Regions from separate parts of the Homo sapiens genome. Here regions 2, 3 and 4 are each linked to region 1. The links come from fine-mapping of genetic effects on gene expression. A gene starts in region 1. Each other region holds a variant in brackets. All regions are shown on one strand. Distances are between the middles of the regions.

Evidence for each region. PIP is the estimated chance that this variant, and not a neighbour inherited with it, causes the effect.
Region 2: its variant is fine-mapped to the expression of TRIP4 in fibroblasts (GTEx, PIP above 0.99). The same link has a PIP of 0.9 or more in breast, stomach and transverse colon.
Region 3: its variant is fine-mapped to the expression of TRIP4 in whole blood (TOPMed, PIP above 0.99).
Region 4: its variant is fine-mapped to the expression of TRIP4 in whole blood (TOPMed, PIP above 0.99). The same link has a PIP of 0.9 or more in lymphoblastoid cells, sun-exposed skin and unexposed skin.

The regions. Positions count from the first base shown.
Region 1 is chr15:64,383,447-64,390,871 of GRCh38, forward strand. TRIP4 (thyroid hormone receptor interactor 4) reads left to right here and starts at 4,390. Exons shown (of 13, transcript NM_016213.5): 1 at 4,390-4,518. The coding sequence starts at 4,418. It also overlaps a transcript of PCLAF not described here. RefSeq lists enhancers at 4,105-4,605, 4,187-4,676, 4,606-5,106.
Region 2 is chr15:64,518,780-64,526,216 of GRCh38, forward strand. The region is part of intron 2 of ZNF609 (zinc finger protein 609); the gene reads left to right. Among named protein-coding and RNA genes, the nearest start is that of ZNF609, 62 kb to the left of the region's middle. The variant G/A (reference allele first, on the strand shown) is at 3,315.
Region 3 is chr15:64,682,124-64,689,245 of GRCh38, forward strand. ZNF609 (zinc finger protein 609) reads left to right here. Exons shown (of 10, transcript NM_015042.2): 10 at 1-3,945. It overlaps OAZ2 (ornithine decarboxylase antizyme 2), which reads right to left. Exons shown (of 5, transcript NM_002537.3): 4 at 6,961-7,046; 5 at 5,451-6,711. The coding sequence ends at 6,581. Among named protein-coding and RNA genes, the nearest start is that of OAZ2, 18 kb to the right of the region's middle. RefSeq lists an enhancer at 3,419-3,920. The variant TG/T (reference allele first, on the strand shown) is at 2,793.
Region 4 is chr15:64,588,107-64,595,543 of GRCh38, forward strand. All of the region lies in intron 2 of ZNF609 (zinc finger protein 609), which reads left to right. The region is part of intron 4 of LOC101930091 (a long non-coding RNA gene); the gene reads right to left. It also overlaps the pseudogene RPS26P50. Among named protein-coding and RNA genes, the nearest start is that of OAZ2, 110 kb to the right of the region's middle. The variant C/T (reference allele first, on the strand shown) is at 3,579.

The sequences.
Region 1 (7,425 bases):
ATCTCCGCCTCCCGGGTTCAAGCAATTCTCCTGCCTCAGCCTCCCACGTAGCTGGGATTACAGACACGTGCCAAAACACTCGGCTAATTTTTGTATTTTCAGTAGAGACAGGGTTTCACCATGTTGGCCAGGCTGGTCTCAAACTCCTGACCTCAAGTGATCTGCCTGCCTCAGCCTCCCAAAGTGCTGGGATTACAAGTGTAAGCCACCACACCTGGCCAGCACAGTGGTTCTTAAATGCCATTATTTCCTTTCCAGTTTAAGTGGCTTCTACATAGGTCTGAATTACTTAATTTGAACTTATATTCCAGATTCCTGCAGAAAGAATAAGATAGTCTTTTCTCCTTGCCCACCTGCCAAGCAAGTTGCCAGAAAGAGTATCAAATATATATTTCCACCCGGGGCAGTCTACATATTACTATAGTTGTGTGTTTGTTTTTGTTTGCATGTTTGTCATTTTAACACCAACGATGATAATGAAGAATGCATGCTAGAGAAAAAAAAAAAGTGCTGATGCCTAGTAAAAGTTCTTCATTGAAATGTTTGCTTTGCAGAAGCAATTAAACACAATTTTTATAATGAAATAAAACACAGAGAGTGGTGTGGAGTGAACCTGAAAATTTCAAAGGCCTAGGGCATTAAGAAAAGTTACAGTATGTATCAATACAATTTCTGCCTAAATTTATTTATTTTATTTATTAATTTTGAGACAGAGTCTCACTCTGTCATCCAGGCTGGAATGCAGTGGCACGATCTCAGCTCAATGCAACCTCTGTCTCCCGGTTCAAGCAATTCTCATGCCTCAGCCGCCCATGTAGCTGGGATTACAGGTATGTGCCACCACATCCAGCTAACTTTTGTATTTTCAGTAGAGACAGGGTTTTACCATGCTGGCCAGGCTGGTCTTGAACTCCTGACCTCAGGTGATCTGCCTGCCTCGGCCTCCCAAAGTGCTGGGATTACAGGTGTGAGCCACTGCAACTGGCCTGCCTACATTTATACCAAAGAAAATCTTGGCCGGCGCAGTGGCTCATGCTTATAATCCCAGCAATTTGGGAGGCAGAGGCAGGTAGATCAACTGAGGTCAGGAGTTCGAGACCAGCCTGGCCAAAATGGTGAAACCCCATCTCTACAAAAATACAAAAACTAGCCAGGCATGATGGCTGGTGCCTGTAATCCCAGCTACTTGGGAGGCTGAGGCAGGAGAATCACTGGAACCTGGGAGGTGGAGGTTGCAGTGAGCCCAGATCATGCCATTGCACTCCAGCCTGGGTGATGGAGCAAGAATGTCTAAAAAAAAAAAAAAAAGAAAAGAAAAGAAAAAAGAGATCTTTAAGTCTTGCTAAATGGGTGTGCTTGCATTGCTCAGGCAGAAATGTAATTTAACAAATGACAGTAATAATAAATTGCATTATAATTACATCATAATTAACATATGACTTATGAGAAAAGAATGCCTTTTTCTTTTTTTGAGACAGGGTCTCACTCTGTCACGCAGGCTAGAGTGCAGTGGTGTGATCACAGTTTACTGCAGCCTCGCCTCCTGAGCTCAGGTGATCCTCTTCCAAGTAGCTGGGAACACAGGAGCTTGCCACCACACCTAGCTAATTTTTAGGTTTTTTTTGTAGAGACAGGGTCTCCTGATATTGCCCAGACTGGTCTCGAATTTCCGAGTTCAACCAATCCTCCCACCTCAGCCTCCCAAAATGCTGAGATTACCGGTGTGGGCTACGGTACCCAGCCACCTATGTTATTCTGGAGGACGTACTTATCATAACATGTATGACATACTAAATTATATTATATGAAAAAACTTAAGTCATAGTCTCTGCCTTCAAGCACTTAATGTTTTAGTTATGGAGACTGTTATGGTTAATTTTAGGTGTCAACTTGACCAGATTAAGAAATACCTAGAGGGCTTGTAATCCCAGCACTTTGGGAGGCCGAGGCGGGAGGATCACCTAAAGTCGGGAGTTTGAGACCAGCCTGACCAACATGGAGAAACCCCATCTCTACTACAAATACAAAATTAGCCGCGCATGGTGGCACATGCCTGTAATCCCAGCTACTCGGGAAGCTAAGGCAGGAAAATCGCTTGAACCCGGGAGGCGGAGGTTGTGGTGAGCCAAGATTGCACTATTGCACTCCAGCCTGGGCAACAAGAGGAAACTCCATCTCAAAAAAAGAAAAAGAAAAAAAAAAGAAAAAGAAAAAGAAATACCTAGATAACTTGTAAAGCATTGCTTCTGGGTGCCTTTGAGGGTATTTCCAAAGGAGACTGGCATGTGAGTCAGTGGACTGAGTGGGGCAGATCTGCTCTCAATGTGAGCGGGCACCATCCAATTAACCAAGGACCCAGAACAAAAAAGGTGAGAAAAAATATTTCTTCCTTCTGGAGCTGAGACACTCTTCTCAGACTTCTGCTCCCAGACATCAGAACTCCAGGCCCTCCACCTTGAGACTTGAAGATTTCACAACTTGGACTGAGCCAGCTACCAGCATTCCAGGGTCTCCTGCTTGCAGATGGCCTGTCATGGGTCTTTTCAGTCTCCATAATTTCCTGAGCCAATTCCCTAATAAATCTCCTCATAGATCTGTATCTATATCTATCTGTTATCTATCCTATTGGTTCTGTCTCTGGAGAACCCTAACACAGGGACTGAATAAATAAACAGGTAAATGACTTTGATACCTTACAATTATTATTAAATGTAGTGGAGTTTTACAAAGAAACAAAACTTGTACCCACAATTAATAAACATTCACAGAGTATTTTGACTTTTTCTTAAAAAAAAAAACCCTGGAAAATCATCTGCTTTCCAAATTAATGATATCTACGACAATCTAAATGGAATGTAAATCAATACACTTATGAGGTTTTGTTTTGTTTTTGTAAAAAGGCCTTGCTCTGTCGCCCAGGCTGGAGTGCAGTAGTGCAATCAGGGCTCACTTCAAGCTTGACCTTCCAGGCCCAAGTGATCCTCCCACCTCAGCCTTTCAAGTAGCTGAGACTACAGGCATGTGCCACCATGCCAGGCTAATTTTTTTCATTTTTGTAGAGATGAGGATTCTCCTTATGCTGCCCAGACTGGTCCGGAACTCCTGGGCTCAAGTGATCCTCTTGCCTCTGATTCCCAAAGTGCTGGCATTACAGGCATGAGCCACCACGCCCAGTGTGTGTGTGTGTGTGTGTGTGTGTGTTTGTGTGTGTGTCTCCGTGTGCGCTCGGGTGATCCTCCCGCCTCGGCCTCCCAAAGCGCTGGGATTACAGGCATGAGACACTGCGCCCGGCCAATACACTCATGATTTTAATTATAATATTTATGCCAATGAAAACACTAGCAAAAAGGTAAAACAGCTGCCAATTTAATGTGACCACTTAGTCTAAACAGGCTAGTAGAAATGAAGAACTTTTAACCTGCAAATGCAACAAAAAGCCAGAAATGAATGGGAAGACATTATGATCTCCAGAAAAGTTTGGCTAAATTTTCCCCAGCCCATTGTCTTAGCGGGGTAGGGAATTGCAGACAGCCCTTAAATACTGTCATTTTTGGTTGAGAACTCATGTGGAAAGTCCTCAAAGCCAAATTCCAACTCCTGTTTTACTGTTTTTTACCCTCGAGCTTGCTGAGTTGTCTTGGCTCTCCTGGAAAATACATGGCTCAAAAAATAAAATAGAAGTTTTAGCGGTGTGAATCTAGTAGTCGACTACAGGGGGTATTAAAAATAAACACTCCATCCCGGTTAACACGTGAAACCGCGTCGCTACTAAAAATACAAAAAAAATTAGCCGGGCGTGGTGGCGGGTGCCTGTAGTCCCAGCTACTTGGGAGGCTGAGGCAGGAGAATGGCATGAACCCGGGAGGCGGAGCTTGCAGTGAGCCGAGATCATGCCACTGCACTCAAGCCTGGGCGACAGTGCGAGACTCCGTCTCAAAATAAATAAATAAATTAATTAATTAATTAAAAAATTAAAACCACCACCAGAGCAAAAACTTACAGCGCTTACAATACCTTCCACGTGCTGTTTTATTTTACATAAAACCATGACGATTAAAAAGCTGGCCTCTCAGCTTTCCGGGTATTGGTTTGTTTTCCCCCTAAACTGTCGTTTTTATAGGCACTTGCACTGTCTTCTTAGCAGAATTGCCAATGGCCTTCCTCGAGTCCTACGTTTAGCGATTGGCAAGAATCATGCACTGACAGAGCTCGACTCCGGAGGGCACAAGGAAGTAGACAACAAAGCAGGAAGAAGCAGGAGGCGCACAGATGGGCGGGATCTGCACTGGAGGCGGTGCGACCTTGCGGGGCGGTGCAAGCTGGCGGAACCCGCGTGAGAGAGGTTGGTGTTGCGAAGGGAACTAGTCCGGTGCAGGACGTGGGGCTTTTGCAGCTCAGCTGGTTCCGGCTGGGGAAGATGGCGGTGGCTGGGGCGGTGTCCGGGGAGCCGCTGGTGCACTGGTGCACCCAGCAGTTGCGGAAGACTTTCGGCCTGGATGTCAGCGAGGAGATCATTCAGTGAGAACAGTTCGGGTCCAAGCGGGGAAGGAGCTCTGGGATGTGCACTGCCTGAGCGAACCGGGAAGCGGGGAGGACTGAAAAGTTAAGAGAGAAATGTGATAAAGGGGCTGCAGTCTGTAGTCTGTAGGCGTCGAATTTTGGCCTCCACCTTTGTAGTTTAGTTTCTGGAATAGGGTGTCCGGCTCCACAGTCTGCCGGTCGGGCTTTTTTCCTGGGAAGACGCCCAATCTGTAATAATTAGAAATGCAAGGCTGTCCCAGGAGCCAGTTTCCTTTCTAGAGAGAAGGGGCAGGTCAAACTGTATTTCCTAACTTTGAACCCCTTACTCTTTTATTTATTTATTATTATTGTTGTTATTATTGAGACGGAGTCTCTGTCGCCCAGGCTGGCGTGCGGTGGCGCGATCTTGGCTCACTGCAACCTCCGCCTTCCGGGTTCAGGTGATTCACCTGCCTGAGCCTCCCAAGTAGCTGGGATTACAGGCACGCACCACCACACCCGGCTAATTTTTAAAAATTTTTAGTAGAGTCAGTGTTTCACCATGTTGGCCAGGCTAGTCTCCAGCTCCTGATCTCAAGTGATCCGCCCGCCTCGACCTCCCAAAGTGCTGGGATTACAGGCATGAGCCACCGCACCCAGATATACTCTGAACATTTTAGTCGGCCCAATCTGAGTTGTGTCAGTAGAGCCAACAGGGTCAGCTGTGTCAATAGGACCTAGAATTTAAGTGGAAGCAGCGTGGTAGAGTACAAATAGCTTCTGACTCTGGAGTCTCAGGTTCTATATTCTGTTGTCGTTTACCTGTTTTAGAACCCAGGACAACTTAATTTTTCTCTCTGTACCCTGGTTTCTTCATTTATAAGATTAATCATTAGTAGAGCTTATCATGCTTTATGACTCCTATGAAATGGAGATGGTGTACATGACTTAATATCTACTTTCAACTGATTGAAGAACATTTGTTGCGCTGCTGTTACACGCCAGGTGCTGGGGTAACAAAGACAAGACAGTTGGGTTCCCCTTCGTTGATGAGTGCTGAGGTTGGGGAAATGAAGGGGCTTGTTGGAGCACAAAATAAAGGATTCTCATTAAGATTTGAAAAACTCGGAAGGTTTATTGGAAAGGATAACTTTCACCCGAGAACTAAGGAATAGACAGAGGTGGCGGTCCAAAGTGTTCAGGCAGGGGAGAAAACTACAAAAATGGGACTTGATCGAAGAACTGAAAGTGTTCCTTCATTTGATTCCTTGGTCACTGATGTTGAAACCTAAATTGCTGTTCTAGGGCTTTTGTAGGAAGTAAGATGAGTTTCTGAGTTTCGGAGAAAATAGACTTTTGGCAAGGAGACAGTTCAAGTAGGTTATTTTAATGGATTTTTTTGAGGCCCTAGGAGATGGCTCAAGCCCTTATTCCCAGCACTTTGGGAGGTAGAGGTGGGAGGATTGCTTGAGACTGGGAGTTGGAGACCACCCTGGGCAACATAGTGAGACCCTGTCTCTACAGAAATAAAAAAAGTAAACAACAAGATAAAGGATTTTTTTTAACACTAGAATAGACAACAAAACAAAACAGCGAAATCTTATGGTTTGGCTTTACCCTTGCTTGAACGCAGTCAGATTAAGTATTTAGTAGTTTTCAAACATTTTTTAAAGCAGTGGAATGCTATCAAATGAAATAATGAAACTTTGCAATATATAAAACAGAAAAGTGTTTTTTACGAATATAAGTTCAAAATTTTCACTTTTTTTTTTTTTTTTTTTTGAGACAGATTCTGTTGCCCAGGCTGGAGTGCAGTGGTGCGATCTCAGCTCGCTGCAACCTCCGCCTCCCACGTTCAAGCGATTCTCTTTCCTCAGCCCGAGCAGCTGGGATTACAGGCGCGCACCACCATGCCTGGCTAATTTTTGTATTCTTACTAGAGATGGGGTTTCACCATGTTGACCAGGGTGGTCTCGAACTCCTGACCTCAGATGATCCAACCGCCTCAGCCTCCCAAAGTGCTGGGATTACAGGCATGAGCCACCACGCCTGGCCCAATTTTCACATATTTATTGTAAATATGTGTAATATATTAAATATCAAATATATTAAATATTAAATATATCAAATATTATATTAAATATATTAAATATTAAATATATCAAATATTATATTAAATATATTAAATATGTGTATTATATTAAATACAGTATTAAAAAAAAAAGATTGAGGTGGCCAGGCGCAGTGGTTCATGTGTGTAATCTAAGCACTTTGGGAGGCCGAGGCAGATGGATCATTTGAGGTCAGGAATTTCAGACCAGCCTGGCCAACATGGCGAAACCCCCACTCTACTAAAAATACAAAACTTAGTCGGGTGTGGTGGAGCGTGCAGGTCATCTCAGTTACTCGGAAGGCTGAGGCAGGAGAATCCCTTGAACCGCGGGGCAGAGGTTGCAGTGAGCTGATACCGCACCACTGCACTCCATCCTGGGTGACAGAGTGAGACCTCGTCTCAAAAAAAAAAAGGAAAAAAGAAAGATTGAGGCTATTTTTGATAAATTAACAATTTGAAATAGGGTAAGAATGATAGATGTAGTCTTCTCAGTCTAGAATCCAGTTGTATTTTGTTTGGATTACACAGTATCAAGAAAATGCGTTCTCAGGCCAGGCGTGGTGGCTCACGCCTGTAATCCTAGCACTTTAGGAGGCCAAGGCAGGTGGACCACCTGAGGTCAGGAGTTCGAGACCAGCCTGGCCAACATGGTGAAACCCCGTCTCTACTAAAAATACAAAAAAAAATTAGCCAGGTATGGTGACGGGCACCTGTAATCCCAGCTACTCGGGAGGCTGAGGCAGGAGAATCGCTTGAACCCAGGAGGCAGAGGTTGCAGTGAGCCAATATCTCACCACTGCACTCCAGCCTGG
Region 2 (7,437 bases), 140 kb after region 1:
CGAGAGTCATGTCCAGATTTTGGGCATGAACCAAGCTGTTCATGGAACCACTTACTCATAGGAGGGAACACTGAAAAGGGGCAAGTTTGCAGGGAATGATAATGAGTTTAACTTGGGACATGTTTTGAGGTGCTTGCACTGCCTGTGCTGGGGATAATGTAAGCAAAATAGATTTGGTCCTGCTCTTTCTAGGGCATACGGTTTAGTAGGGGAGATAGAATGGAATCAAACAATCATATGCACATCTATCATTTTACACTATTAAAATTATAAAAGTGAAAGTTATAGGATGCTGAGAGCCTATAATTAGGAACTGAACCATTCTTGGCGGGTGCAGGGCGGGGGGCGGGGGGCGGGGGCGGGTCAGGGAAAATATCCGTGAAGAAGTTTGAGTAAATATCTGAAGGATAAATGGTAGTTAATTTGGAAGAGGGAGTTGAATGAATGAACAACCAAGTAGAAATGTCTCTTGAGGACTGGATGTGTGAGAGAGAGAACTGGAAATCTAAAGATTTAAGAGTTTATTAATGTGAACACATAAATGGTAATTGATGCCATAGAAGTGAGTGCACTTACCCAGGAAGAATGTGTCTGTATTGAATGAAAGGGGCTCAGTATGGGTCACTGAGGAACACCAAGAAGGTAGCTACCTTAGTTGGCATATTGGGAACTGCTTCCTTGTGTCCTAGAGAGAATACAAAACCCACAGCTGGGAACATATGTCTATACAAACATTTTAAAATCCACTGAAAGAGGTTATAGAACTTGCTTGGTTCTGTAGTTAGAATTGGTTTTATTGGATTGAGGCACACTTTGAGGAAAAGTTCGTTTCTCATGCCACTTATGAACAATGGAAGAGTGATCTTTGCTTTTTATTTTAACCATTTGCCATATTTTCCCTGCCTGGCATCATCACTCTCAACTTTTTTAGTTTTCCTTTTTTCTTTTTTGACCTAATTTTCAGTTATTTAAACTCTCAACTTCTAATAGTATTAAAGTGAAAGCATAGATATTGTAATCAGGCCTATGTTTGAATCCCAGCACTGACTGCCATTTAATATATATAGGATCTTCTGCAAATTACCTCTCCGTATCTCATTTTCCTTAGATTTTATATGGTTTTAATTTAAAAGATCTAAAAGTACACTGTAAATGCACAGTATATGGAGGTTATAGTATAATAGTTACAGGTCAGCAACAAATGTTTGTTCTATTTTCCTTTCTCCTTGCAGCCTCTCTTGTCTTTCCAGGCAGGTGAGTAGTTTCATCTGTGATCATTTATGCTCTGTACCACCTCCTCATGGCAGTATGTTACAGCAGCTTTTCTACCAGAGCATAAGGAGTCTTGCATTTTTGTGGTAAAAGTCCTTTCTGGAGAAGCAGTACAGGAAGGTTTCTGGGTTGCTATAACCAGGATTTTTCAACAACAACACTATTGGTATTTGGGGCTAGGGTAATTCTTTGTTGTTGGGGTGGTCCAGTTTATTGTAGGATGTTTCACAGCATCCATACCTTTATCATATTCGCTCCAAGGTAAGACAACCAAAAATGTCCCCAGACACTGCCAAATATCCCCTGGAGGGCAAAGTTTTTATTTGAGCACTATTTGCTAAAATATTGTTGTGGATGCTATTTACATAACTGTGTGTTCAGTTTATGAAAATGCAGAGTTGTACATATATGATATATGTAGTTTTCTGTTGTGAATGTTGTTTCCGTAGAAAGTAGAAAACCAAAGGCAGTTAGAGAGCCAGGCTCCCTAACCTGTGTCTCAGTTTTTATTATCCCCAAATCTCTATTTTTCTTTTTGTTTTTTTATTCTCGTTTTCTTAAATTTTTGGCTAATATTTTTTTTCCCACACGTTCTGGTATTCTCCCCAAATCTCTAAAAGGTGAGGTGAAATTAAGGGAGAAAAGGGTTCACAATAGAATGGGAAGACAACAAAAAGTAACCGAGAAACTGACTTCCAAATGTCTCTTCAATTCCTAGCTGTTAGGATATGGAATTCAACCTAGGGAAATTTCTATTACAAGATTTCAGAAATAAGCTCTGAGTACGGGACAGAATTAAATTATCAGCCGAAGAGATTATTTTATTATCTTTCTTCCCACCTTCTCTGCTACACTGACAGCAAAGGAGAGGCTCACCTGATTTTCGTCACTTCAGCTGTTACCTTTACCTGATGGCCACTGAAGTTATTTCTGAAAGTGTTCGCTTTTACTTTTAATTTAAAATCTTTCCGTTCTTCTTTACTTTGTACAGGTGGGTAGAAAGTCCTTCCATATTAGATAATGTTGACTACCCCCTGAGAATGTAGTCCCCAGAGAAATCCTTGGATAGCACTCAAGCTGGAAGCAATAGGTTAAGTAACCCACGTCCATGTCTTAAGAGGAGTCCAAGATAAGATCCCATTTTGAAGTTTGAAAGATCCTGTAAAGGGAAGGCAGACCTTGGGCCAAGCAGCCTTTGAGGTGGTAACCAGCTCATAAACAAGAGCTGGCATGTGCCAACAAAGTCTCTCATCCTGGCTCCAGAGTTGGCTGAGGAGAGAAATTTGTGGAAGCCTCTGTAAGTGGAGGATTGTTCTTGGCTTTGGCTTTTGTGTGGCTGGATATGGAGTAGGGAGGGAGCTTGGACCTGGTCTCTGGGGTGTAGGCATTTCCCTGAGAGGAGGATTTTTTTTCCTTTCCTTGTTTTATTTTTTCCTCCCTGTCCTTCCCTTAGTGTTAACATTTCAAGGTACAGGAAATGATTGGATACTGATTGTTTTATAACTCTCTTAGGACAGCCTATTAATATTCTGCTGCCAAGACGACAGTCAGGAGGAATTTAGGTAGAATCAAGGCTCATAACCTTTATGAAAATACCCTAAGCAGGGAACCTTCAATTTATTTTGAAGTGTTTGAGTTTTACTAAAAGCCCATCATTGCCAGTGTGGTTTTTTAAAATGGACAGCCATAGTGGCTAAGGAGACCAGTAAGACCTGGAGTTGGCAGCAGAGTGAGCCTTCTGAGGAAAAAAGGAAGAGGAATATTGGTGTGGGAAAGAGGTGCAGCTGTGCCACTGGATCCCTGTCCCTTCATTATTCTTTACTGGCCCTGGCAGCTGTCAAAGTTTGCTTAATAGAGTTGTGGGCTGGAGATTGTTTCTTAATCCCTGTATAGGAGTACCAAGCTCCAGCTGTGTTATCTAGGCTCTGGGGCCCTAGCACTTGGCCAACTAATGCTGAGGCATCTGGTGACTCGAGACAAAAGCCTATTATGTCAGAGAGAAGATTGGGCAAAGCACAAGCATTGTTATCTCTAATGCCCCC[G/A]GGGCAAACTCTGTACTTGGCAAGTGAGAATGCCTTGACCTTGTGAGTTTACAGCAACCTGTCCACTCGGTTTTCTGTTTCTTTGAGATTATTTTCTACTAACGAGGTTTCAGCATTCTGGCATTGAAATCTATAAGTGCTTTATTGTAAAGAATTTGGAAAATTCAGAAAAGTAAAAGGAAGAACATAAAAATTGTACTTCATTCTACCAGATTCTTAAGAGAAGAATTTCTTTAATGTTGTGGAACTGGCTGAGATTATTGGTTCAGGACTGGCTTGGGCATGATCTATACCTCATGAATCTCAACTCTGTCCCTTTAAGCATCTTTAATTTTCCCATTAGAGATCTGAACTGGTTTGGCCCTGCTTGGCTAGATTTTATTACAATTGATGTGATCTCACCCTGGAGTATGAAACTCATCTTCTTTGTTTAGCTTTTTATAACTTATCTCAAACCAATTTTTTATCTTCATTTGTGATTGTCTTCAGAAGTCTGGGTGTTTGTTTTTTTTAAACTGATGGTGGTGAGTATGTAGGGAGAGAGTAGTTTTGCAATTTTTAAAGACTTAATGTTGACCTGCTTTCTTCTCTTTGGAAAGAGGTGTCTGTGATGTCAGTTAACATAATTTGCTTTCGTTGATGAGCTTGCTCAAGACATAAGCTTATGAGATTTCTAGTTGTATAAAAAGAAAAGGGCTGTCTTTCATGTTTTCTTTTCCTTGCTGGAGTAGCATTTTAGTTAAGGAAGTTGCACAAAAAGAAACCCATCTTTTTTCTGTGTAATTTTCTATATGGATTTCTATGTTGACCAGTCTAGACCTTTTGTCTATTCGATGTTTACATAGATGTTTAGATTTAACTTTTAATACATTGTGGTTAAAAAAAAAAAAAAAGGAAATTTTGGTGCAATAGAGAAAAGTATTTTGGATTTATTTATTGTTCCTTTTAAATGTTAAAATGAGGCAGGAATACAGTACTTGCAGCCTATTGTCTAAGAGTACTCTTTGACATTTATAATATCAGGTATAAGCATTTCCAAAAGAGATCTTCCTTAACATACCATACCCTTAATGATCTTTTGACAGGACAGAAATGGGGAGAGATGTTAGCAGGGTATATTTTAATTTATATTCTCCAAAAGTATACATCCTATACTATGATGAATTATTATAGATTTTATTTTCATGTAATATGGACTCCCTTGCATAACTGGAGAGAAACAGCTTCCAATTAAAGTAATTATGCTAGCAGCTCTGAGACTACTCTTTGGAACTGTTGTCAGCACTTTGGTTTGAAGAAATCAGACCAGGATTGACTGCCTAATAGTAGGCTTTTACCAAGAGCCTGACATAAGAATTTCAGGAAATCTAGGAAAATCTTTGAAAATCTGCTATATTATAGGCCGGGCACAGTGGCTCAAATCTGTAATCCCAGCACTTCGGGAGGCTGAGGCGGGAGGATCAGGAGTTCGACACCAGCCTGGCCAACATCGTGAAACCCTGTCTCTAAAAATACAAAAATTAGCCAGATGTGGTGATGCACACTTGTAATCCCAGCTACTTGGGAAGCTGAGGTGGGAGGATCGCTTGAACCTGGGAGGCAGAGATTGAAGTGAGCAGAGATCACGCCACTGCACTCCAGCCTGGGCAACAGAGCAAGACTCCATCTCAAAAAAAAAAAAGAAAAGAAAATCTTCTATGTTATAAACTTAAATTTCATGTGAATGGAAGATTGAGAAATGATGGCTGATGGCCTAAGCTCTGGGTAGAATTTCAACTTTTTGCATGTTTATCAAATGGCTTTAATGTTCCTGCCTTTTCCTGGTTATTATTTAAAAAAAAGTAATGTTTCCAGAAACCATTTAACAACTGATAACTGGAAAATTTTTTGGAAGAGGTTAGCTAGACAGGTTATACGGGTTTTTTTTTTTTCCTCATACAGTTTTTTTAAAAATTGAGAAATAATTCATGTTTTCTTTTTTTTTTTCAGTATACAATTCAGTGGTTTATACTATATTCACAAACTGTGTACCCATCACATCACTAATTCCAGAATATTTTCATCTCCTCAAAAAGAAACCCTGTACCCATCAGCAGTCACCCTAATTCTTCATTTTACTTAGCCCCGGGCAGTCTACTTCTGTCTCTCTAGAAATTTCATGTAAATGGAATCATACAATCTGTGGCCTTTGGCCGGGCGCAGTGGCTCACGCCTGTAATCCCAGCACTTTGGGAGGCCAAGGCAGGCAGATCACAAGGTCAGGAGTTCGATACCAGCCTGACCAACATGGTGAAACCCTGTCTCTACTAAAAATACAAAAATTAGCTGGGCGTGGTGGCACATGCCTGTAGTCCCAGCTACTTGGGAGGCTGAGGCAGGAGAATTGCTTGAACCCGGGAGGTGGAGGTTGCAATGAGGCAAGATTGCGTCATTGCACTCCAGTCTGGGAGACAGAGCAAGACTCCATCTCAAAAAAAAAAAAAAAGGGGGGGGCCTTTTGTGTCTGACTCCTTTCACTTAGCATAATCTATTGTAGCATGTATCAGTACTCCATTCCTTTTTATGGTTGAATAATATTCCATTATATAAATATACCACATTTGTTTATCCATTTCATCAGGTGAGGGATATTTGGGTTTTTTCCTTATTTTGACTGTTAATGGATAATGCTGCTATGAACATTCATATACAAGTTTTTGTATGGACATATGTCTTCAGTTTTTTTTATTATATACCTAGGGATAGAATTGCTGGATTATGTGGTAACTCTTTGTTTAACTTTGTTTGGAGCTGGCAAACTGTTTGCCAGAATGTAAATGGCTGTGCCATTTTACATTCCCGCTAGCAGTGTACAAGGATTCCAATTTCCCCACACTTTCAACAATACTTGTTATTGTTCATTTGTTTAATAATAGCCATCCTGGTGGGTGTAAAGTGGTATCTTGTGGTTTTGACTTGGATTTCTTTAATGACTAATGATTCAGAACATCTTTTCATGTGCTTATGTGCTTGTATATCTTCTTTGAAGATATCTGATTCTTTGTCAATATTTTAATTAGGTTCTTTGTAAGAATATATTCTGGATACTAGTGTTTTCTAAGATTTTTATGGTTATAGCTCTTACATTTAGGTATTTGATCCATTTTGAGTTAATTTTTCTATATGGTGTGAAGTAGGGATCCAGCTTTAGTCTTTTACATGTACATATGCGGTTTTCCTAGCACCAATCGTTGAAAAGACTATTCTTACCCCACATTGAATTTTCTTGACACCCTTGTTGAAAATTAATTGACCATAAATGTATGGGTTTTTATCTAGACTCTCAGTTTTGTTCCGTTGATCAACATATCTATCCTTATGGCAGTATTACAATCTTGATTACTCATCTTTGTAGTAAGTGTTGAGAATTGTGAGTCTTTCAACTTTATTCTTCTTTTTGAGATCGTTTTGGCTATTCTGAGTCCTTTGCATTTCCATACAAATTTTAGGATCAGCTTGTCAATTTCTGCAAGAAGCAGGCTAGGATTTTGATGGAGATTGTATTGAATCTGTCAGTCAGTTTGGAGAGTTCTGCAATCTTAACAATAAAAAATCTTCCAATCCATGAACATGAGATGTCTTTCCATTTATTTATAACTTCTTTAATTTCCATCAATGATGTTTTGTGGTTTTAGTGTACAAATCTTGCCCTTTTTCTTTTTTTTTTTTGAGACAGAGTCTCACTCTGTCCACCAGGCAGGGGTACAGTGGCACAGTCTTGGCTTGGATCACTGCAACCTCCACCCACCAGTTTCAAGCGATTCTCCTGTTTCAGCCTCCCAAATAACTGGGACTACAGGTGCACGCCACTAAGCCCAGCTAATTTTTTGTATTTTTAGTAGAGCTCGGGTTTCACCATGTTGGCCAGGCTGGTTTCCAACTCCTGGCCTCGAGTGATCTGCCTGCCTAGGCCTCCCAAAGTGCCGGGATTACAAGCATGAGCTACCACGCTCAGCCCTGTTTTTTCTTTTCTTTTTTTTTTTTTTTTTAAGCCAGTCAAATTTAGGGGTTGTACACCAAAATCTTGCACTTCTTTTGTTAAATTTATTCCTGAGGATTTTATTCTTTTAGATGTTATTTTAAA
Region 3 (7,122 bases), 300 kb after region 1:
GCAGCCATACCCCTCACCATCATTACCACCATCACCAGATTCTGCATCTCCCTAGTGCTTTGCACCCTGGGAATTGGCAGCATGTGGAGGAACTAGAATCTCAGGAAAGAAATTGGGGGTTGTTTTCTACATAATTGTGAAAACAAGGTCTTCAAATGTGGAGACTTCTCCCCATTTACATGAGCACATATAAACGCTCACAACCTAGCCTGGAAAGGAAGACCAAGGCATCTGCCCCAACATGGCCTTGAGCTGCCTGTGAGGCAGGGGGCAGGGGTTCCAACACCAGCACAGGGCTCCCCAGGGACACTGGGAGCAAGCTGGTGCTGGAGCATGAATGACGTCTGTGAAGTAGAACCTGCGTCCCCACTAAGTCCTGCTGCTTCTTATTCCCCAACTCCTTGCCCTTTTCCCTTCCCTCCTAACCCCTTGGTGCCTTTCCCAGGGGGATCCCCACACTGGTCTTGCCTCTTCTTTTCCACTGCTTGGCTCTTAAGCCTCAGGCAGATAAACTAGTATTCCCCCCAGCTTGGGGAACCTTGGAGTCTGCCAGGTCACCTTAGGGCAAGGCCCAGAAGGCAGCCCCTGGGAGCACCCAGCAGTTCTTGGAGATGTCCTGTCATCTAGCCATCTGATATCTTCCTCATTTGAGGCCACAGATATATACAGCCCAATTCCTCTGTCTACAAGTACATGATTTTATATAGCTCAGTCTATAACCTCCATGTGGGCCAATATAAGCTGTGTTTCTTGGTAACACATATTTTGTTTGAGGGGCCACTGGCCATGGGAGGTTATTTGTTCCTTAGACCCTGGAATAACACATCCAAGCCATTACTTATTAGAGTCTCAGAATGTACTCAGTGGAGCTGTGCTTTGAGGCAGCCAACATTTCTCTGCTCTCCTTAGAAATGCAGTCTCCCAATGGAAGCTTTATACTCTTTGTACTGGGAAAGTGAGGATGATTTGGTAGCTTTATTGGGGTCATGTCTTCCCCAAGGTGTGGGGAGCTTAGCTTACTTGGCTTTTGAGGTATCATCCCTCTGTTCTCCCCTCCTATCTTTCCATGACCCTCTGGATTGAGAGAGAGAGATAAAGACTGACAGACACCAGTGTAGGCTGGAAAAGGGAGTGTGTGACCAGAGTGCCAAAAGTGACTAGGAGCAGGAACTTGGCTCCGACTCAGTTTGGAAAATGGGAAATAGGGGACAGTAAGCACAATGCCCAGTAGTAGTTGATTTCCAAGGACCCTGGAACCCTACACTTGAGAGGCTTAGGGTCACCATCTGCTCAAGAGGATCCCCTCTGATCTACAGGCCTTTTCCCTAGGTTTCTGCCTCCTCGTTTTTGTTCAAGTTGGGTTCTGAGTCCTCCCCAAAAACCATTGTTTTAGACCTCTTGGCAGGGCCCCAAAACAGCCTCCCTCATACCCATCATTCCCTCTGCCTTCTGCTGCCCTCATGGGCAGTGCTCTGAGCAGTGACCTCCCTTTCCTCCGTGGAAGTAGCTAGTGCAGACACCGTCATCCCACCCCACCTGAGTCACCCCAACCAAGAGGGTGACTGAATTTCAGCCTGATTATGCCCTCCTGGGGCTCCTGTGAGGTGGAGCCAAGGTTCCCTCTCTGTTCCTGTTTGTTTTTAAATATTGTTGTGTGTTTTGTATCTGTGGCACTGGCCTGCAGCATACTCTGTATATATTGTAAAGAAACCGTTAGGAGTAATTTTCTTTTGCATTGGGCAGGCATGGCCCTGCATTCCTGCCCTTTCCACTCATTCTGTAACACAGAGGACGAACTTCTGTATTAGCTGGGCAGCCTTGGGTTCTCCAGAAGAGAACAGGTTTTTCTTTTCCTTTTTAATTTTTCTTCTTAAACATTTGGCTCTTTGATCCTCATATCCAAGTCTCCCCTGAAGAGTAGGAGCTGCTCAGAAGAGCAGGTGAAAGCCACCATGGCAGATCCTGATGCCTGCCGGGCCTAGTCTTCCCTCTGAAATAACATGAAGCAGCAGCTGTGGAGATTCTTGACAAGTGCTGAGTGAAAGATTTGCTGCCCACCTCTACATGGGGAGGAGAAACACAGGTGGGAGCTACCTGTGGCATCCATGACCTAGTCAGAGGGATGAGATGCTCAGCAGGGGTCCCCATCCTATCCCACCCCACAAACAAAGGCTGGAAAAATTTGCTACCAAGGGCCAAGACCACCAGACCAAGCCTGTTTATGAGCCACCCCTGCCCAGGCCCTCACAGACATTGCTCACGGGGCTTCCCATAGAGGAGAAGCTAAAGAGGGAGGGGGCCTCATCCCCAGATAGATCAGGCAAGGCTTGGAGAGCTGCTCTTTAGGATCCACATCAACTACTTCCTCATTTTAAGGTATGGCAGTTCCCTTCATCCCCTTTTCCTGCCTTGTACATGTACATGTATGAAATTTCCTTCTCTTACCGAACTCTCTCCACACATCACAAGGTCAAAGAACCACACGCTTAGAAGGGTAAGAGGGCACCCTATGAAATGAAATGGTGATTTCTTGAGTCTCTTTTTTCCACGTTTAAGGGGCCATGGCAGGACTTAGAGTTGCGAGTTAAGACTGCAGAGGGCTAGAGAATTATTTCATACAGGCTTTGAGGCCACCCATGTCACTTATCCCGTATACCCTCTCACCATCCCCTTGTCTACTCTGATGCCCCCAAGATGCAACTGGGCAGCTAGTTGGCCCCATAATTCTGGGCCTTTGTTGTTTGTTTTAATTACTTGGGCATCCCAGGAAGCTTTCCAGTGATCTCCTACCA[TG/T]GGCCCCCCTCCTGGGATCAAGCCCCTCCCAGGCCCTGTCCCCAGCCCCTCCTGCCCCAGCCCACCCGCTTGCCTTGGTGCTCAGCCCTCCCATTGGGAGCAGGTTGGGGCGAGCTGGAGGCCCGGGCTGGAGGGGCAGTGTTGCTGTTCATAGATTTTGTTCCATTGGCGTTGCTCTGTTGAATTTAATTTCAGTCTTCCTGATTCTTCCCTTCTGTAAAGTGTACATTACCAAGTTCCTTGTTTTTTTATATATATATATAAATATATATATATACAAACTGTACTCTTTTTGCCTTTGTACATTCAGGCAAGAAGAGAAAATAAATCTTTTTAAGAGACAATCACAAATCTGTGAGGGCTGCTGGTTATTTCTCCTGGAGTTTGCTGCTGAGCTGCCTCTTCCTTCCTCCCAATTTTCCTGTTCTCCCTCAGCTCTCCTGATCTTCCTGGCCCTGCTCCATATGCATCCTCAGCTTCACTTTCCCTGGCTGATGGCAAGCTGTTGAATCCAGTGTCCAGACTACCTGCCTTGTAACCCTTTTCTGCCCAGCATTGTTTTCTGGCTTGGCCACTGGCTTAGCCCAGGAGCTTTACTCTGTGCCCTGGCCTCCCCTCTCTTCACCTTTAGATTTCCATTCACCGAAGTGGCTTTGGACCCCTGGGTACTCTGGGACCTGTTTCCTGGAGGCCCTGGCTTGGGACACTCACCTGTGAAACTATGCAGCTGGGAGCTCTCTGCCTAAGAGTTTGCACTATTTAAACCTGCCTGGGAGTTAGGACGGATGGTTTTAGGAATGACCGGAAAACTACCCCTAAAACTCCCCCGACATTCCAGCCTCTAGAATGCTCTGATCCAGAGCTCAGTGGATGATTCCCAGCTGGTGGACTCCTGTGGCTACCCCATCAGAACAAGGGCTAAGGGTTTATGGGTCAAGAGTATTTGATCAGAATTTTAAAGGGTGGTATACTCTGAAACACAGCCCAACCAAACCATTGTTTGGCCGCTTTCTCTTTTCCTCTACCTTCCTCATCCCCACTTTTTTCCCTTTCTCTCTACTTCCTCTTCTTAATTGGCTTTGGAATTGAAATATATTTTTAAATTATTTGTTGTATTTATTGAATAAAGTTTTTAATGTCCCTGTTCTTAAATTTAGACTTAGTTTGCCTTTCACACACCACCCCCACCCCCAAAATATTCTACCTTCTAAGTTGCTTTTTAAACTGTAGTGCAGCCTTTTGGGTACCATATTTCTTTCCTGTCAGTGGTCTTCAATAGCAAAAGTTTTTTTTGAAAAGGGAAATCTTGACTGGGTGATTTTTTTTTGAAGAGGGAAATCTTGACTGGGTTTCCAATTTAGCCTTTGTGACTCTAGCCGTATTGAAGAGGAATCACCAATAGGTGGCAGCAGAATCTCAAGCATGTTTCTTGGGAAAAAGTAAGGGACTGAGTTTTGTCTTGGTTCTTTTTCATCTGTCTTGTCGATTCCTTGTGTTTGTTTAATATCTGCATCCTAAACTGCCAGCTGCCTCTAGGAATTACCTGCCCAGTGGGGGACACTTGATTTCAACGGAATGTCTCTAGTCCCAGACTTGCTCTAATAACATTTGCCAGGCACGGTGGCTCACGCCTGTAATCCCAACACTTGGCGAGGCCGAAGCGTGGGAATCACTTGAGGCCAGGAGTTCGAGACCAGCCCGGGCAACATGGCAAAACCCTGTCTCTACTGAAAATACAAAAAATTAGCTGAGTGTGATGGTGGGCATCTGTAATCCCAGCTACTCAGGAGGCTGAGACAGGATAATCACCTGAACCCAGGAGGCGGAGGTTGCAGTGAGCTGAGATTACACCACTGCACTCCAGCCTGGGCGACAGAGCGAGATTCCATGAAAAAAACAAAAACAAAAAAAAACTTGGGATTCGAGCTCATTACTTTTAATGAATACAAGTTAGAGTCCAAGATAAATGACTTGGCCCACAGTGAAAACACAAGCAGGCTCCATAAAGAGCAATGTGAGAGCCACAGCTTAACAGTAGACAGTTGCAAAAATGTAGGTGGAAGAACATGCCCTTCAATTGGCAAAACAGAAGCAAAAGAAAAAAAGTGCCAGTAAATCCTTGAGAAATTAAAAAAACTGTGGTGAAGAGGATTCCAGCCCCCTTGGTACCACTGAGAGCTTATTCATCAGGCTGTGGTGTGGGGGACTGGAAGCCACACCTTAGGACACTGAGCTCCAAAAGGGGAAAACTAGAACAGGGAAGGTGTGTGCTGCATCCTTCAAAGACCTCAGGAATGGGAATGTCAGGAGCTCCATGCAAAAGCCAAAACCCAGTATCAGGACCCAACCTCCCCAGCCTTTTACAGAAAAGGAAGAGCTAAGAGCAGATTGGATCTTGGGTATAGCCTCTCCTAGATGAAGCTGATATGTACACATCTCTCTCCAGGGGGCTCTGGCAGTAAGTCTCAGACTCCTAGCAACCCCGCATTTCACAGTGTAATATGGCCCCAGAGAGAGACCTCAGCCAGTTTATCTGCCCTCCTACACTGCAGTTTTTTTCCCAAGGAGCACGCACCACACCTCTATTTATTAGGCTCTGGAGTCAAAACAGTTTGGTAGGGAGTTGGTCCTAGTTCAGAAATAAAGAATAGACCAACCACAACTTTAAATCAGTTTATTGACACAGTAACACAACACACTTGCCTCCCTGACATCCCCGTCCCCCTCACCCAATCTAGATCTCTCCCCCTTGCTCTCCCCTTAGAAAAAGCTGTTTAGTGAAAACAGTTAAGGGCAGGCCACTTCTACACTCCCAGCGCTACCCTAGGCCCTGCAGAGCAGAGTCTCAGACACTACTCGGAACCTGGTGGGGAGGCAGCTAGTACTATACTCAGCCAGCCAGAAGTATCCAGTCCCTAAGAACGGATTGCCCCACAATTCCCAGGCCCTGAGTTGCTATATATTCCTCTTCCTTACTGCTGTTTGTGACCCCAAGAAGGAGACCTTGGGGCCTGGGCCTGCAGCCAGGAGCAAGAACTCCTGGCAGTGATTTGAGAATTAATTAGAGTTTGGCTAGTGTTTTAAAGGCCCAGGCATCCCCCAAAAAAGCCCTGGTGGTGGGAGTAAATTTCAATGCCCCTATTTAAAATGTACTGATAACATTAAACAGATTAAGCCAGCTTAACCAAATGCCAGAATAACACTAAGCTGTAAAGAAGGAGGGGTCGGACCTGCTTACTCCAGGCCAGACGCAAATGCACACAGAGAAGCCCAGGTAAGAGTGTCAAAAAACAACTCAAGGACACTGCCCAGGGACTGAAAAGCCTATACTCAGGAGCCCCTGGGGTGACAGGAAGCAAAGAAAGAAAATACACAAGTCTTAATAACCAAAACAGAAAGCCAACAGCAGGGAAACCTGAGCCTGACAGTGCTGCCCACCAGCCCTCCAGGCCATGCCCCTGAACCCAGACAGTCCCTCCCCCTCTAGGCAATGTCCTCCCCTAGGCTAGATAGAACACATCACACAGCGCAGTTTAGAAAGCTTCTAATGCCAGTTCATAAACATCTTCATTTACTATTGGTGATTACATGTGAATAATATGTTTATACTGTTCTTTATGGAAAACAATTTCAACGAGTCAACTCCGAGAACACAATAGGCAACCCTCACCCTGAGCCCCTCAGTGTCCTTCCCTAGACAGCGAGGAGCCCTCTCGTCTGTCCCAGGGCTGCCTAACTTCCCCTCTTCCCCCACTGTGGCTCTTGGGTAAAGCATCCTCTATGACTATTAGTCCTCATCGGACAAGTTCTGGTCCAGGGGATAAACCATGAACATCACATCTGGCCGAGAGGGGACACAGGGATGGCCTGGACGTACAATCTCAAAGCCCAAGAAGCTGAAGGTCTTCAGGAGTGGAGCTGCAGAAGACAGAGTGTAAAAAAGTCTGATGAGAAACACAATGGTAGGCTGAAATCAAAACCCCAAACAAAGATGGAACAAATAAGCACTAGGCTTTTACGAGCCCTTCAGGCACTTGCCCTCCTGCCATGATTTCCCAGGGTTTGAAAGGCAAATTCAAGAGTCCCACCTCATCCTGGAGGTGCTCCCTTCTCTCCCCCAGGCCCCACTGTCTGGGCTGTAAGGCTCAGGCCACTCTGACTCCTCACCTCTGTCTTCTCGGCCCTTCCTGAAGCAGATGAAGACATAGTTCACTTTCATCTTCTCTTCAGCAAACTCTAGCAGTGCTAACAATCTGCAGGAAGCAAAGAGAAGTACTTAGGCCCATCACCACCTTCCTAGACCTCCCTCCCATTCACACCCCACCCCCA
Region 4 (7,437 bases), 200 kb after region 1:
CAGCCTGGGCAGTGGAGTGAGACCTTAAAAAGAAGGGGAAGGCCGGGTGCGGTGGCTCACGCCTGTAATCCCAGCACTTTGGGAGGCCGAGGCGGGCGGATCACGAGGTCAGAAGATTGAGACCACGGTGAAACCCCCGTCTCTACTAAAAATACAAAAAAAAAAAACAAAAATTAGCCGGGCGTGGTGGCGGGCACCTGTAGTCCCAGCTACTTGGAGGCTGAGGCAGGAGAATGGCATGAACCCAGGAGGCGGAGCTTGCAGTGAGCCAAGATTGCCCTACTGCACTCCAGCCTGCGTAACAGAGCGACACTCTGTCTAAAAAAAAAAAAAAAAAAGAAGAGGAAGACTGTACAGACTACTAGAGATTATGGCAACCTCTTTCTCAATCTTGTTTTCTTGTTTTTTGTTTGTTATTTGTGGAGATGGTATCTCACTTTGTTGCCCACGCTGGTCTCAAACTCCTGGGCTCAGGTGGTCCTCCCACCTCAGCCTCCCATAGTGCTGGAATTACAGGCATGAACCACCATGCCTGGTCTGTAGTCTTTTTTTTTTTTTTTGAGATGGAGTTTCGCCCTTGTTGCCCAGGCTGGAATGCAATGGCAAATGGCAAACTCTGCCTCCAGGGTTCAAGCAATTCTCCTGCCTCAGCTTCCCAAGTAGCTGGGATTACAGGCATGTGTCACTACGTCTGGCTAATTTTGTATTTTTAATAGAGATGGGGTTTCACCATATTGGTCAGGCTGGTCTCGAACTCCTGACCTCGGGTTCGGGTTATCCACCTGCCTCAGCCTTCCAAAGTGGTGGGATTATAGGCATGAGCCACCATGCCTGTCTGTGGCCCTCAGTCTTAATAGTGCAACCAAGAAAATGTCTCAGCTACCCAAATAGGGGAGATGGTTTACACATCAGAATGTTATCTGGGGACTTTATCTCCTGAATTTGGTCCTGGGTTGCTCAAATGAACACTAGCTAGTTCCATTTTAGCTCTTCTGATGGAGCCCAGTGTAGACTGGTACAGGAATTGTGGAGGATGTCCCTGCCTTGTGTGGACATGTTCCAACCTGAAATAAGGGTGGTCTTGAGAAGCTAAAAAAGGAGAAGAACTCAACTGATTTTTTTAATTGATGGTTTAGTAGCCAACTTCTGACCTGTTCTTAGCCTGAAAAGACCTACTGATATCAGGCTAATCATAGTTCTGAGATAAAGGTCAGTGGATGAAGCCCTTTTTGGAGGATCCCTAGGGCACATTTAATAACAACAGAAACTTCAGCAGCAGCAGCAGCAGCATTTTATCAGACTATGTTCCAGGCAGCAATACCAAATGCTTCTTATATATTTCCTTTAATTATTGCAGTAGCTCTATGCAATACACACTAGCATAATTTTTATTTTACTAACAAGAAAATTGTGGCTTAAAGAAGTTAAATAACTTGCCTAAAGTTGCACAGCCAGTAGTGGAGGCTCTATTTAAAGCCAAGATGGCTATCTTCAAAGTCCATTTGTCGTAATCATTATCTCCTATTTATCTTCATCCCCTTTACTTCTATTTGAATAGTATTTCTTTCCTTATCTCATCTGTTCTTAACCAAGGCCCTCCTTTACTTCTTCCTAAAGTAGTCCACATCTGTGGAGCTTCTCAGGAATATACTTTTTTGTGAGATTTTTCTATAAGATTAAAATTATAAATTAAATGGCTAAAAATTTTTACATACTGTAAACAGACCCAGACAGTTAAAGAGATTATAGAGATTTGGCAGGAAAAACTCGATGCTTTTGGAAAGCTCTTGATAGTATTCACAGATAAGCGATAGTGAAAATTGAGACTAATGGATACTGGTAAAAAATTAGATGTGGTATGGTTGATCATACTTGTTGTGATTAAAGCTAAAACATTATTCAAGTTTGCTAGAAAGTTGAAGAGCTGAATTTGGGCTGGATGGAGAAGGTAAGAAAAAAACACACTGCACATGGTCCTCATTTATGAACTTAAATCTTTCCTGGCTGCCAACTACTTGCTGATTAGAAATCTGAACTCCCAACCTGTATACTAGGAAATCTAGCCTTTTATTGTCCTGGTTTAAGAAGGATTTAAATTGTGCTCAGTATTGAAGTTTTTGGGTCGGAACTATTTTAATATTATCTATGAATAAATATAAGGTCATACATATTAGTAGGGGAGAGAGCGTATGGGATAAATTGATCTCTCTCTCTCTTTTGCTCTTTATTTTGAGAGAGGGGTTCTTGCTCTGTTACCCAGGCTAGAGTGCAGTGGCATGATATCAGCTCACTGCAACCTCTGCTTCCTGGTTTCAAGTGATTCTACTGCCTCAGCTTCCTGAGTAGCTGGGATTAAAGGTGTGTGCCACCACACCCAGCTAATTTTTGTGTTAGTAGAGTTGGGGTTTTGCCATGTTAGCCAGGCTGGTCTTGAACTCCTGGCCTCAGATGATCCATCCACCTTGGCCTCCCAAAGTGCTGGAATTGCCCACGTGAGCCACCTGGCCTTCATATATAGAAAATATATATTTATTTTACATACACATAACACACACACACATATACATGCATATATATATATGTATATATATATGTATCTGGGTTTAGAGTAGTCATGTAACCCAGGAAAGGAATCCAGAAATCAATATAGACCTCCTTAAGATAAGAGCAGTAGCTTTCAATGTCAGTTTACAAGGTAATGGTTATACTAACCATAACCATTTTGTGTTTGTTGGCATTAAAAACAAACACAAAATGTTATCCCTTGAAGATAAAGACAAATAGGTTCAAAAGTAGAAAACTTTGTACATTTCTGATAATACCTTAAAAAGGTCCTGAGAAGAGTAAATAAACTACCCTGGAAATGTAGGCAATACCATAGAGTTTTCTTTAAGTTCCAGAAAGCCTGGAAGTTGGTTGAGTAGTATGTATCGAAAAGCCTTAAAGGCCGGGCATGCTCGTTTATGCATGTAATCCCAGCACTTTGGGAGGCTGAGCTTGGGAGGATTGCTTGAGCCCAGGAGTTCAAGACCAGCCTCCGAGGCCAAGTGCAGTGGCTCACGCCTGCAATCCCAGCATTTTGGGAGACCAAGGCTGGCGGATCATGAGGTCAAGAGATCGAGACCATCCTGGCCAACATGGTGAAACCCCGTATCTACTAAAAATACAAAAATTAGCTGAGTGTGGTGGCATGCACCTGTAGTCCCAGCTACTCAGGAGGCTGAGGCAGGAGAATCGCTTGAACCCAGGAGACAGAGGTTGCAGTGAGCCAAGATCGCGCCACTGCACTCCAGCCTGGGCGACAGAGACAGACTCTATCTCAAAAAACAAACAAACAAACAAACAAAAACAGCCTCCTCAACAAAGCGAGACCCTGTCTCTATAAAAAATGTTTTAAAAAAAGCCTCAAAATGTGCATACCCTTTTACTTGCTTATATGTAGGACTTCACCCTATGAAACTAGTGAAACAGGTGCAAAGATATTTCTCTCAGCCAGGCATGGTGGCTCATGCCTATAATCCCAGCACTTTGGGAGGCTGAGGTGGGTAGATCGCTTGAGCCCATGAGATTGAGAACAG[C/T]CTAGGCAACATGGTGAGGTCCTATCTCTACTAAAAATAATTTTTTTTTTTTTTTGAGACAGAGTCTTGGTCTGTCACTAGGCTGGAGTGCAGTGGCACGATCTCGACCTACCGTGCACCGGGTTCAAGTGATTCTCTTGCCTCAGCCTCCCAAGTAGCTGGGACGACCGGCACACACCACCACGCCCAGCTAATTTTTCTATTTTCAGTAGAGATGGGGTTTCACCATGTTGGCCAGGCTGGTCTCAAACTGACCTCAGGTGATCCGCCCGCCTTGGCCTCCCAAAGTGCTGGGATTGCGAGTGTCAGCCACCACACCCGGCCTTTTTTTAATCAGCTGGTGGAATGTGCCTGTGGTCTCAGCTACTTGGCAGACTGAGATAGATCACTGGATCACTGGAGCTCTGGGGGTCAAGGCTGTAGTGAGCCATGATTACATCACTGCACTCCAGCCTGTCAGCAGAGGGAAGACCCTGCCTCAAAGAAAAAAAAAAAAAAGATATTTCTCTCAGCCTTGTTTATACAAGTGAAAATTAGGACAACCTAAATATCCATCTATAGTTAATTGGTTAAATGAATCGTGGTTGGTTTGTTCAAAATAATTCTATTCAGCTGGGCATGGTGGCTCACGCCTATAATCCCAGCACTTTGGGAGGCCAAGGCAGTTGGATCACTTGGGGCCAGGAATTTGAGACCAGTCTGGCCAACTTGGTGAAACCCCATCTCTACTAAAAATATGAAAATTTAGCCAGCTCTGGTGGCAGGTGCCTGTAATCCTAGCTACTTGAGAGGCTAAGGCACGAGAATTGCTTCAACCCAGAAGGTGGAGGCTGCAGTGAGCTGGGATCTCGCCACTACACCCCAGCCTGCATGACAGAGTGAGACTGTCTCAAAAAAATAATAATGGTAATAATTCTGTTCAAGCATTTAAAATTATGTTTTAAGTTGGCCAGGCATGGTGGTTCACGAGGCCCGCAATCCCAGCATTCTGGGAGGCCAAAGCAGGCAGATCACCTGTGGTCAGGAGTTCAAGACCAGACTGGCCAACATGATGAAACCCCATTTCTACTTAAAAAAAAAAAAAAAAAAAATTAGCCCGGCATCTGAAATACCAGCTGCTTGGGAGGCTGAGGCAGGAGAATTGCTTGAATCTAGGAGGCAAAAGTTGCAGTGAGCTGGGATCGCGCCACTGCACCCCAGCCTGGGCAACAGAGCAAGACTCTTGTCTCAAAAAATTACATAAATAAATAAAATAAAAATAATGTTTTTGCTCTCTCCGGTCCGTGCCTCCAAGATGACAAAGAAAAGAAGGAACAATGGTCGTGCCAAAAAGGGCCGCGGCCACATGCAGCCTATTCGCTGCACTAACTGTGCCCGATGCGTGCCCAAAGACAAGGCCATTAAGAAATTCGTCATTCGAAACATAGTGGAGTCCGCAGCAGTCAGGGACATTTCTGAAGCGAGCGTCTTCGATGCCTATGTGCTTCCCAAGCTGTATGTGAAGCTGCATTACTGTGTGAGTTGTGCAATTCACAGCAAAGTAGTCAGGAATCGATCTCGTGAAGCCCGCAAGGACCGAACACCCCCACCCCGATTTAGACCTGCGGGTGCTGCCCCACGTCCCCCACCAAAGCCCATGTAAGGAGGTGAGTTCTTAAAGACTGAAGACAGGCTATTCTCTGGAGAAAAATAAAATGGAAATTGTACTTAAATAAATAAATAAAAATAATGTTTTAAGTTATAGCTAATTGACACAAAAATGTTCACGATGCAGTGAAATTCTGATAACCTTTCATAGTCTGAAAAATCTAGTTGTTCTAGGAGAAATAAGTCATCCAGAATGTTCTCTTGTTTGTTTTTGAGACAGGGTCTTGTTCTCTCGCCCAGGCTGGAGTGCAGTGGTGCAATCACAGCTCACTGCAACCTCCGCCTCCCAGACTCACGTAATCCTCCCACCTCAGCTTCCCCAGTAGCTGGGACTACTGGTGCGTGCCACCATACCTGGCTAATGTTTTATATATTTTTTGTAGGTACAGGGTTTCACCATGTTGCCCAGGCTGGTCTCAAACTCCTAGACTCAAGTGATCCACCTGCCTACAGTGCTGGGATTACAGGTGTAAGCCACTGTACCCAGCCATTCCAGAACATTCTGATGATTCAACCATAACTCATTTCATAGTATAATTGAGTGGATAAGAAGGGTTGGTGTTTGCTGTCTCGCCATATTAATAGTTTTGTGTTGGAACTCCTTGACTGTCAATCAAGTATTATGTTTGAGGAAGATGTAAACATTTAATACTTTTAAGATTAGGAGAGGTTTGAAGGGTTTTATGTCATGAACACACATATTAAGGAAGAAGCATGGCTCTGCCCTCTTGAAAGACTAAAGAAATATTCCATCAGCAGTTTACTTTAGAAGAACTGAAAGAATAGGTTGATACTGAACCCACTCCCAGAGCCAGGTAGCTGAAAGGGCACTGTGATTGTTATCTTACTAGGAACACGTGGAGTGGGAGTAAGGCAGTTTTCTGCAGAAAAGAGGGATTCTGGGCAGACAAAAACTACATATGCACTATGTTTTGTTTTGTTTTTTTTGTTTGTTTGTTTTAAATTAAAACCAGAAAAGGCGAAGACTTGGAGAATGCTCAAAATTTTTTTTTTTTTTTGACACGGGGTCTCACTCTGTCACCCAGGCTGGAGTGCAGTGGTGTGATCTCAGCTCACTGCAACCTCCACCTCCTGAGCTCAGGTGATCCTCTCACCTCAGCCACCTCAGTAGCTGGGACTACAGGCTCTTAACACCACATCTGGCTAATTTTTTTTTTGTATTGTTGGTAAAGACCGGGTTTCACCATGTTGCCCAGCCTGGTCTCTAACTCCTGAGCTCAAGCAGTCTGCCTGCCTCAGCCTCCCAAAGTGCTGGGATTACAGGCATGAGCCACTGCACCTGGTCACAAAATGTAAAGATTTTGAGGGCCATTGATTTTAAACTCCAGAAGCTGGTCCAATCAGAATGAACGTAAGGATTTTTGTTAGTGTGATTAGAAAAGAATGTGTCTCGGCCGGGCGCGGTGGCTCACGCCTGTAATCCCAGCACTTTGGGAGGCCAAGGCGGGTGGATCATGAGGTCAGGAGATCGAGACCATCCTGGCTAACAAGGTGAAACCTCGTCTCTACTAAAAATACAAAAAATTAGCCGGGCGCAGTGGCGGGTGCCTGTAGTCCCAGCTACTCGGGAGGCTGAGGCAGGAGAATGGCGTGAACCCGGGAAGTGGAGCTTACAGTCCGGCCTGGGCAACAGAGCGAGGCTCCGTCTCAAAAAAAAAAAAAAAGAAAAAAGAAAAGAATGTGTCTCTTTCTACTGGGTTTGGAGCTGTGAGTTTATAAAATTTGGGCCGGGCGCGGTGGCTCGTGCCTGTAATCTCAGTACTTTGGGAGGCTAAGACAGGTGGATCACCTGAGGTCAGGAGTTTGAGACCACCCTGGCCAACATGGTGAAACCCCGTCTCTACTAAAAATACCAAAAATTAGCCGGGCGTGGTGGTGGGCATCTGAAATGCCAGCTACTTGGGAGGCTGAGGCAGGAGAATCACTTGAACCCGGGAGGCAGAGGTTGCAGTAAGCTGAGATCATGCCACTGCACTCCAGCCTGGGCGACAGAGGAAGATTCCGTCTCAAAAAAAAAAAAAAAAAAATCGAAGTGCTACAGCCACCTTGCCACCTAGGAGGAGATCCTGGCTGACAATGCAGCTGTGCCAGAGAAAACACCAAGAGAGGGAGGGTTTGAAATTGGGCCCGAAGACATCATTTGAGCCCGTACATCAGGTCATGTGTGATATAGACTTTTTCAGTTACACGA